Homo sapiens: one gene and its partners. The protein of the gene in region 2 interacts with the protein of the main gene of each other region in a pairwise test. Each region holds a gene or a part of one and is shown on either strand. Other genes may lie near its edges. The genes, in order: FAM156B, ATRIP and SCG2.

The links.
Region 1: the proteins of ATRIP (region 2) and FAM156B interact in binary tests that used the Homo sapiens proteins (3 or more experiments, as listed by UniProt).
Region 3: the proteins of ATRIP (region 2) and SCG2 interact in binary tests that used the Homo sapiens proteins (3 or more experiments, as listed by UniProt).

Annotation. Positions count from the first base shown.
Region 1 is NC_000023.11:52,895,552-52,899,301, reverse strand, and holds the start of FAM156B (protein FAM156A/FAM156B), read right to left. Parts: upstream 1,973-3,750; 5' UTR 1-1,972.
Region 2 is NC_000003.12:48,463,595-48,467,344, reverse strand, and holds part of ATRIP (ATR-interacting protein), read right to left. Parts: intron 3,601-3,750; coding exon 3,464-3,600; intron 3,305-3,463; coding exon 3,213-3,304; intron 2,764-3,212; coding exon 2,683-2,763; intron 2,515-2,682; coding exon 2,262-2,514; intron 1,859-2,261; coding exon 1,791-1,858; 3' UTR 690-1,790; coding exon of another isoform or gene 1-689. Other genes in the region: TREX1 (three-prime repair exonuclease 1), read right to left, coding at 1-689. UniProt on the Homo sapiens protein: Required for checkpoint signaling after DNA damage. Required for ATR expression, possibly by stabilizing the protein.
Region 3 is NC_000002.12:223,596,362-223,599,433, reverse strand, and holds the end of SCG2 (secretogranin-2 precursor), read left to right. Parts: intron 1-137; 5' UTR 138-151; coding exon 152-2,005; 3' UTR 2,006-2,494; downstream 2,495-3,072. UniProt on the Homo sapiens protein: Neuroendocrine protein of the granin family that regulates the biogenesis of secretory granules.

The DNA of each region.
Region 1 (3,750 bases), on a different chromosome or scaffold from region 2:
CTCACGCCTCTAATCCAAGCACTTTGGGAGGCTGAGGTGGGAGGACTGCTTCAGCCCAGGAGTTTGAGGCCAGCCTGAGCAACAGGGCGAGACCACCATCTCAACAAAAAACTTAAAAAATTAGCCAGGCATGATGCTGCACAGCTATGGTCCCAGCTACTGGGGAGGCTGAGGTGGGACGATCACTTGAACTCAGGAGGTTGAGGCCAGTGCAGTCCAACCTGGGTGACAGGGTGAGTCCATCTGAAATCACAAAACAAAACAAAAAGACAACTATGGCAGGCATGAGACGGGGGTACTTCTGACACAGAGGAAGTCAAAATCACCATAGCCCAGGTGGTCAGGAACAGCTTCTCCCAGGGCATGCTATGATATATATTCTCATCCCCAGTTGCAGATGAGGTAACAGGATCAGAGAGGTTAAGCAACTCACTCAAGGTCACACATCTAGGGAGTGGTGGTGACCATTTCTCACTGAGGTCTGCTGAAATACAAAAGTCACTCCACCATTTGTGACACCAATCTCTCTTTATATTGTCACCCGTTTTAATTCGCATTCATAGACGTATACTTACCTGTGGCTCTCCTTAGTTTCATATTCTCATAAGCGGCTACACACGGTATAGATTTCGTCTTAGCACATCAGGCCTTTCCCTTAAAGAACCTGAATTTCCCGTGCCCGGCACGACTGCCCAGCCCAGAACTGAACACTTATCTCAAATTAATCTTCCAACCACACACCAAGGAAAGAAAATGGATTACTGCCACGTAGAGATTTAATTTGGGTATTTCACGAATTCTGAACTACGATTTGAAATGTAACCACTGTCCAACCAGAAACAGTAAAAACAAAGTGCTTCCCTATGAAAAGTATTCACAGGACATTTTATTAAATGCCAAAGCATTCCAGGTAAGACACACTGCCCGTTTTATAGGAAGTTGTTGAGATTCTGCTCCTAAGAATACAGTAGTCCTTTCTCTCTCCACTGCTAGTGCCCTGATAAGCTCAGCCAACCAAGGCCATTCGCTTTTCCATTTGCAAGCAAACACACCAAACTACCCTCACACCCACGCACAAATCCAACGCACCCAACGGGTCAGTGAGTAGAGGGAAATGGTATTGGAGATGCAGATGGGAATCTGTGGCTACTCAGAGCACCACATTTCTGATGGCGGAGAGGGCTACCGCCCAGGGTCGCCTGTACTCCAGCAAGGTGGACGGCGGAGAGGCCCTCCCTCTCTAAACATGAGACCCTGCAGCTTGTGCGGCTACTGGACACAAATGGCCTGGACCATTCATTGCGCACGAATGCAGCAATCACACCGCCCATTAAACGCATGTCTAGTCGTATTTCACATTACGACCGTCCCTCTGTCACACGTCGGAGAAAGGGTTTGTCGGACGGTTTGTTTCAATAGGGGCAATGCAGTCCTCCTTGAAAACCCTCCAGTCACTGTCTCCTGCTGTGCGATGGGAGAGGAGGTGGGGAGGGAGGTGATGCCAAGGACACGGTGATTTCTGAACCCGCTGAACACTGATCCTAGCCCAAGTGTAGTCCCGCCGGCTACCAATGCCCGCGGCATCCTCTTTCTCCGCTGAAAAAGGCCACCCCCAAGTAGGGAACGAGAACAACGCCACCCCCAGAGTGCACGACCGCCATTCCCACACCGGGGAGATATGGACGACGTGGAAAATCACCCGCTTCCTTCGAAAGCCCCACTCCCGGCCAGCCCAACCCAGGGATTCGAGTCCCAAGACACCCTGGCCTGTGCTAGGGACAGCCTCCGTCTCGGCCTCTCGCTCTGTCTCTCTGGAAGTCTCTCTCCCACCCCCCCGCTCTCAGTCTCTCCCGCGCGCTCGCTCGCTCTCCGTCTCTCTCGGGCTCTCTCACGCGCGTTCTCGCTCCGGAGCCGGTTCCCGCCGTCCAAGCGCCAACGCGGCGCCTCGTTTCCTCTGCCCTGGAAACGCAGCGCCGCCCGCTCGTAATTGAAGGGTTAAGACCATCGAGAGGAGCCGCCCTCCGGCGGGCTAGAGGCGCCGCAGCGCGGAAGGGGGCGCCGGCGAGGATGTGCTCACGTCACAGGGATGCGACGCCGCTGAGAAACTGAACCTTTGATTGGCTGCCGCGGACCGCCGGAGCCGGAAGACGGAGCGGTTGGGTGGCTTCTCGCGACCCACGCCGCTCGGGTGGACTGCGAGGGGAGAAGGCGTGGAGGTCATCCCTTCCGGAGGTGCGCCGCGGCGTTCCCGGAGCGGCTTCTCTGAAGCGTGGCTTGTGGACTGCCGAATGCTTCCGGAGGCCATGGGAAGACACTCCCTGTAGCGGACGTGACTTCCCGGGCGAGGGACGTGGGAACTGGGCTGGAGGGTTGGGAGGCGGCCGACTTCTCCTGTGATTGGCTGGAGTTTTGAGCTAGGGCGCGCCGCTGAGAACCGACACGTGCTGTTTCATTTTTTTTTTTTTTTTTTTTTTTTTTTTTACTGTTTTTGCATGAATGATAAATGCACCTTGGTAAAGACAGAAACCAAACAATCCAATACATTGAAATTATTCAGGCTACTGCCTTAGGGAGAGCGCCCCAGAAGTGGAAATCACACTGTTGGGGTAACCGGGGCGGGGCGGGGGTGTCTTTTACTTTCATAGGAAGGAGTACACCGGTTTCAGTGGGGAGATTTATGGGGCAGGGTTTTTTGTTTTTTTTTTAATCAGCGGAAGTCTCAGCCAGCTGAACAGGGAATGTTTCTCTCTGTGCCTAGCTACTTTTAGGAGGACAGACTTCCCGTCTAAGTGAATCATTTGTGATACCCTACCTTGTTTTAACCTGAGTGACTCTTTCCTAGCAGAGAGAGCCGGACAGACTCCATTTTAGTTTCTTCACTTGCAGCCCCCTTTATCCCCCTTAAGGGAATAACTAGTGCAAGCTGAGTCCAAGCACATCCAAGAATACACCTGCTGGTAAGATATTGAGGCAGGCTGTACCAACAGCTCGGGAATGTGCTCGGTGGAAGGTACCTAAAAGCCCCTGCATTTATCTCTTAATCATAGTTTAAGCCCCTGCACCTGGAACTGTTTATTTTTTGTAACTGCTTCTATAACCAATTAATTTTTTTTAACTTTTTGCCTATTCTGCTTCTGTAAAATTGCTTCAGCTAAACTCCCCCCTCCCCTGTTTAGACCACGGTATAAAAACAAAACTAGCCCCTTCCTTGGGGCCGAGAGAATTTTGAGCGTTAGCTGCCTGTAGGTCGCCAGCTAATAAAGGTCCCCTTAATTTGTCTCAAAAGTGTGGCGTTTCTCTATAACTCGCTTGGTTACAACACATTCATGAGACAAAAGAACAAGGACTGGTGGTGTCTGCCATCTGGGAGTCACGGCACAGAGTGGGAAGACAGCATCCCTTATCTAAGTCTCATGGAGAATAATTGGTCCTGTGTGGTCAGTGACTTCCCAGAACACGAAAGTGTACAGAGATTTCTTTACCGTGGCGTATTTCAGGAGTCAAGTGACACGCAACAATGTCTGTCCTAGCAGATACATGGATAGTAGATTCCTTTTTAACCCTGGAAGAAGCCGCCTCGTGAACAGCAGTTTATGAAGGAAGGAAACATGAACCATTCTCCCAGAATATTATCATTTCATTTTACAAATGAAGTAACTGAGCCACAAAGAGATTAAGTAACCTCCCCAAAGTCGTACAAGAAATAAATGGTGGAGTCTCGATTTAAATCCAGGTGTCTGTGACTTCATC
Region 2 (3,750 bases):
CTGATGGTGCCGAAAGGCCTGGCGTGAGCATCCACCCACCGCAGCAGGGCCTGTGGTCTCCACTGACAGATGCTGAGCAGGGCCAGGACATCACCCTCAGCCGTGTGCGAGTCTGGAGGGGACTGCCCATACAGGCGAGTGTAGATGCTGCCTAGGCTATAGCTCTTCCTTGGGCCGTGTTCTGAGGGGCTGCTTGCTCGCTCCAGGGCCTTCAGCGCAGTGATGCTATCCACACAGAAGGCACCATCCAGAGCACTGGTGAGGCCCAGCATAGCCAGCTCTGCTTGGAGCAGGGGGAAGTCGTAGCGGTCACCATTGTGTGCCACCAGGCACCAGGGCTGTGGCTGGCGCCGCAGGAAGGCTAGGAGCAGGTTGGCCAGGTTGTCATCAAAACATTGACGCCCATGCGCTGCCAGCACAGCTGTGCTCAGACCTGTGATCTCGCTGGCTGCAGGGCTGCAGGCCTTCCCCGGAGCCACACACAGGGAGAGCTTGTCTACCACACGCGGTGGTGGAGGAACTGTGGGAGGTGGCCCCTGAGAGGTGGGGGGGCTCTCCAGGGCACATCTGTGGACAGCCAGCAGGCACAGCTCCGTGACCTTGGGCTGGGAGAAGGGCAAGCCAGTGGCCTCCATGTCGAAAAAGATGAGGGTCTGCATGGGCCCCGGGGGCAGGGCCTGCGAGCCCATGGTTGGGTACGTACCTGCTGCTGAGCCTGGAGAGGAGCATGGGGTGGGTGTGTGAGTGCCCAGTGTTAAGATCCGAAGGGGAGGGAGTGGGGTAGGGGGTGGGCAGAAGCACATCTCAGGCCTTCCCTGCACAATCCTGCCCTGTCTGCGAGCTCCAGGGCCCATTTTCAGGCAGGAAGTTGGAGAGGGTGAGGTGGTTTCCTTAGTGGGACCAGCACATTCGACTGTCTGAGAGGGTCTCCCTCTTCACATGACTCGGCCCCTCCCCTAGTGCCCCCTTAGTCTGGGGTGGGGGAACCCATGGCCCTCCTGCCCTGCGCCATCCCATTGTGGGGGCCACACTCACCGTAGCAGGCAGGCAGGCAGGCAGTAGTGACTCGGCTGCACACTCTCCCGCGGCTCTCGCTGGCAGCAGTGGCGGGAAGTGAAACTTGGCGTGGGCCCGCCTACAGGCCCACGTGAGCCAGGCCCGCCCTGCTCGTCAGCCTGCCTGGTCTGTCCCTCTCACCACCATCCGTTCCCCCCCACACCCACTCCCCTGCTCCCGGGGGACCCCAGAGGCCTTCCAAGATCCACAGCTGTGGCCTGCTGGTGGCACAATGCACCGGGGCCATCATACCAGTGACAGGCAGCTGGAAGGACCAGGGCAGTGGTGCCAGACCAGCTCCCGGTCTTACACACTGCTGGGAGCCCCTGCTGCGGCCCTTTCATGCCCACCTGTGGGTCCCAGTTTCCCAGGCTTTCCTGGTTTAGGCCTGGGCCAAGAGCCACCTCCTTCCCTGCCACACAATGGTTTCTTCCCATGGCCCCAGCCCAAAGCAATGACTCAGGACAATTCCACAGGCAGGGCAGGGCTCCTTCCTCAAGGCAGATCAGTTACCATGGGGACGGGCTCAGCAACAGCCAGGGACAGGAAGAAGGATCCCAGCCACTCAGGGTCCGGGTCCTGCTCCACCCCTCCCACTCCGCCAAACAGATCAGACTCAGGAAACAAGGCCAGCCAGTTCTCTGGGCAGTTCCTGCTGGTCACTGCTTTAATCAGTTGATGTGGTAAGGAAAGGAGTGGTGCTGGTGCCACCATGTGGCTGGACACTCAGGGCCTCAGCCACACTCCACCTCGGGGTCTTCCACATCGGTTTCCGCGGCACAGAGGTCATCCAGGGCTGCCTCTGAGACAAAAAGGAGAGGTTCCTGGTGAGGGCCCAAAGGTGCCAGGGCCTAGGGCAGGTCCCACCTCTCCTCCCCCAACGTCCGCAGGAACTAACCAGTCCCTTCCACACCCAGGCCCTGCTCCCTCAGCTACTGCAAACAAAGTGATACAAAGGCAATTCAGACACGGCTATTTCTGGAAAAACCGTGGCTCTGCCAGGCACACTCAACAGATAGATGCAAAAGGCATCCCAATATGCTTGGAGAAGAACTGAGGCAGGAAGATAAAAGAAAATGGCCCCAGTGCTGGAACAGGCTGCAGTGGGCGGGGGCCTGCTGAGGGGACACCCAGGAATCTGACTTGTTGGGGAACCTCTGGAAGAAGCCATGGGGGCTGGGCAGGATGGCCTCTGGCAGGCTTACCTTCACAGTCCGTCACATCAGGAAGCCCTCGGATGAGCATGCTGACCCCCGGCATCACCTGGTCAAACTGATGCAGGACCTCCACGCAGTGCATCATGAAGAGCTTGTCCTTCTGCGATAGGCCGTGCAGCAGCAGCACCGTGTCCCGCAGACAGCGCACTGTCCGCCTCTGCTGGTCGGTCCTTGGGGGTCCCCCTGCCCTCCGCACTGTCAGCCACTGTCTGTGCAACATCACCGTGAGCGCTCTGACCACCTGAGAGAGGGGGGGTGCAGACTGAGGCCTGGTGCCACCATGGCCTGCACCCTAACAATCCGCTCAGCCTAGCCACCTCACGTGAGGGGGTTTGCAGTGGGGCCTACAGTCCTTGCACGGGGCCCCCTTACCACCAGAGCTGCCAGCTGTTGGCCCCTACCCACTCACCTCCACATTACACTGGCAGTTGGAGCCAGTGACTGGGGGCAAGGGGCTCTGCACACCAAGCTTAGCCAGGAGCCACACCACCTAGAACAAGAACAGATTGGTTCCATCCTGGGCAGAAGGAGACCAGTCCCTGCGAGGGTTTTCTTAAGCTTCTATAAGAGTTCACTTGCTTCAGCAACTGTTTGTCTGCACAAATGGGGTCCAAGAAGTGGTGTGGGACCTTCCCAGGGAAGACCCAGGACAAGCACTCATGTGTCACCAGCAACCCACCTGCCTCCAGCCCCCTATTCTGCCCCCACGTCCCAAAGCCAAGACAGGATCAGTCATCAGGCAACTCTGCCAAGTCCTGTCTGCATTGCATCTGTGTGGTGCACAGCCCCCAAACTGAGTTTACCTCTTTAGTTGCTTTATCAACTCTTGTTACTAAAATGAATTAAAGCTCCGTTTCTCCTCAGCGGAAAGAAAGGAGATTCTGTTGGTTCTTAGGATGGGGTGGGGACAGTGTCCAGAAGGGGCTCTGGAGTTTTTACCTCTTGTTCCAGCTGGAGCCATTGTGTCTCCAAGGCCACTCTGTCAGGCCGTGATGTGATGTACATGTACAGCAGCAGCAGGAGGCAGCCTTCTGAAAAGGACAGCGCACCTCTCACTCAGGGTGCCCTTTCTCATAAAGAGCGTGGGCTACATACTGCAGAAGCCCTCTGAGGCCCTTGACCCTGTTCCCACCCCAACCCTTCCCTTGATCTGCAGGAGCAGTCTAGACGCCCGCCCCACCCTGCTTTACCTGAGTGGGAACAGAGCTGAGGTGCCAGCTGGTCGTGGTCCGCCAGCAGGGAGAGGAGCTCAACAGCCAGCAGCACGCTAGGCAGGGGTGTCTCTGGGCTGAGGCACTTTGGCAGCACTTGGAACACACACTGGAACCTAAAAGACAGGGACCCAGAGAGACGTGACACTCCCCAACCCCAGCTCCATAACCTACCTTCACACTCCACTAGAGGTAACAGAAAATTGAGCAAGTCAGTATGAACAGGTGAGTTGGTTCAGCCAGACTTGGGTTTCAGTGCTGGCCTG
Region 3 (3,072 bases), on a different chromosome or scaffold from region 2:
TAAAAAGAGTTATCCTAAGCTTAATGTGAAATAATATCTACTATGTTTTTTCCTCACCTCAATGATCAATTATTTCTTTTGCTATAGTGTCTTCTAGTTTGTTTCATTTGTGTAACTCATATTTTTTATGTTTTAAGGAAATCTTTCAAACATGGCTGAAGCAAAGACCCACTGGCTTGGAGCAGCCCTGTCTCTTATCCCTTTAATTTTCCTCATCTCTGGGGCTGAAGCAGCTTCATTTCAGAGAAACCAGCTGCTTCAGAAAGAACCAGACCTCAGGTTGGAAAATGTCCAAAAGTTTCCCAGTCCTGAAATGATCAGGGCTTTGGAGTACATAGAAAACCTCCGACAACAAGCTCATAAGGAAGAAAGCAGCCCAGATTATAATCCCTACCAAGGTGTCTCTGTCCCCCTTCAGCAAAAAGAAAATGGCGATGAAAGCCACTTGCCCGAGAGGGATTCACTGAGTGAAGAAGACTGGATGAGAATAATACTCGAAGCTTTGAGACAGGCTGAAAATGAGCCTCAGTCTGCACCAAAAGAAAATAAGCCCTATGCCTTGAATTCAGAAAAGAACTTTCCAATGGACATGAGTGATGATTATGAGACACAGCAGTGGCCAGAAAGAAAGCTTAAGCACATGCAATTCCCTCCTATGTATGAAGAGAATTCCAGGGATAACCCCTTTAAACGCACAAATGAAATAGTGGAGGAACAATATACTCCTCAAAGCCTTGCTACATTGGAATCTGTCTTCCAAGAGCTGGGGAAACTGACAGGACCAAACAACCAGAAACGTGAGAGGATGGATGAGGAGCAAAAACTTTATACGGATGATGAAGATGATATCTACAAGGCTAATAACATTGCCTATGAAGATGTGGTCGGGGGAGAAGACTGGAACCCAGTAGAGGAGAAAATAGAGAGTCAAACCCAGGAAGAGGTGAGAGACAGCAAAGAGAATATAGAAAAAAATGAACAAATCAACGATGAGATGAAACGCTCAGGGCAGCTTGGCATCCAGGAAGAAGATCTTCGGAAAGAGAGTAAAGACCAACTCTCAGATGATGTCTCCAAAGTAATTGCCTATTTGAAAAGGTTAGTAAATGCTGCAGGAAGTGGGAGGTTACAGAATGGGCAAAATGGGGAAAGGGCCACCAGGCTTTTTGAGAAACCTCTTGATTCTCAGTCTATTTATCAGCTGATTGAAATCTCAAGGAATTTACAGATACCCCCAGAAGACTTAATTGAGATGCTCAAAACTGGGGAGAAGCCGAATGGATCAGTGGAACCGGAGCGGGAGCTTGACCTTCCTGTTGACCTAGATGACATCTCAGAGGCTGACTTAGACCATCCAGACCTGTTCCAAAATAGGATGCTCTCCAAGAGTGGCTACCCTAAAACACCTGGTCGTGCTGGGACTGAGGCCCTACCAGACGGGCTCAGTGTTGAGGATATTTTAAATCTTTTAGGGATGGAGAGTGCAGCAAATCAGAAAACGTCGTATTTTCCCAATCCATATAACCAGGAGAAAGTTCTGCCAAGGCTCCCTTATGGTGCTGGAAGATCTAGATCGAACCAGCTTCCCAAAGCTGCCTGGATTCCACATGTTGAAAACAGACAGATGGCATATGAAAACCTGAACGACAAGGATCAAGAATTAGGTGAGTACTTGGCCAGGATGCTAGTTAAATACCCTGAGATCATTAATTCAAACCAAGTGAAGCGAGTTCCTGGTCAAGGCTCATCTGAAGATGACCTGCAGGAAGAGGAACAAATTGAGCAGGCCATCAAAGAGCATTTGAATCAAGGCAGCTCTCAGGAGACTGACAAGCTGGCCCCGGTGAGCAAAAGGTTCCCTGTGGGGCCCCCGAAGAATGATGATACCCCAAATAGGCAGTACTGGGATGAAGATCTGTTAATGAAAGTGCTGGAATACCTCAACCAAGAAAAGGCAGAAAAGGGAAGGGAGCATATTGCTAAGAGAGCAATGGAAAATATGTAAGCTGCTTTCATTAATTACCCTACTTTCATTCCTCCCACCCCAAGCAAATCCCAACATTTCTCTTCAGTGTGTTGACTTCTATCCTGTTAACACTGTAATATCTTTAAATGATGTACAGGCAGATGAAACCAGGTCACTGGGGAGTCTGCTTCATTTCCTCTGAGCTGTTATCTTGTGTATGGATATGTGTAAATGTTATGACTCCTTGATAAAAAATTTATTATGTCCATTATTCAAGAAAGATATCTATGACTGTGTTTAATAGTATATCTAATGGCTGTGGCATTGTTGATGCTCACATATGATAAAAAAGTGTCCTATAATTCTATTGAAAGTTTTTAATATTTATTGAATTATTTTGTTACTGTCTGTAGTGTTTTGTGGAGTACTGGACCAAAAAAATAAAGCATTATAAATATATAGTTTTATTTATAAGGCCTTTTCTATTGTGTGTTTTACTGTTGATTAATAAATGTTATTTCTGGACAACTTTGGACTCTTAATTATGGAAAACCAGAGACAATGTCTACGAAGCAAGCAGTATGAAGCCAAAAGAGAAAATCATCTTCACCAGACAATTCAGGTAAGAAGTAATGAATTTTATACATGTGTTCATGGTACCTGCTTGCAGAATGCTGCATCCTTATGCTTGCCCATGGTTTTCCTTATGCTTGCCCATGGTTTTCCTCAAATATATAATCGATAGAGTCTTTGTTTTAGGTATTTTTTACTCTTGATTTATATAAGTAAAAGAAATTTAAGTCTCCAATACCCATAGGCAGCCATCAAAACAAAAACAGAAAGAAAAAGAAAAGGCTGCATAGATGGCAATCAAAAATGACTACAGACTTGAAAGGAACTTGTCTATTCCCAGGTCATGTTGGTCCCCAAAAGACAAGGCTGTTGCCTCCCTTATGTGACTTGAGAGGGGCCAAAGGACCCCCAAACTGACCATTAGGTAAGTGAAGAAGCACAGTAGCAGTGGGAACAACCAGCCCCATCTTCTGCCCTAGTGGGCAAAGAAGTGCATGGTTATTACAGCGCACATCACTTTAGTGCAATGTCAG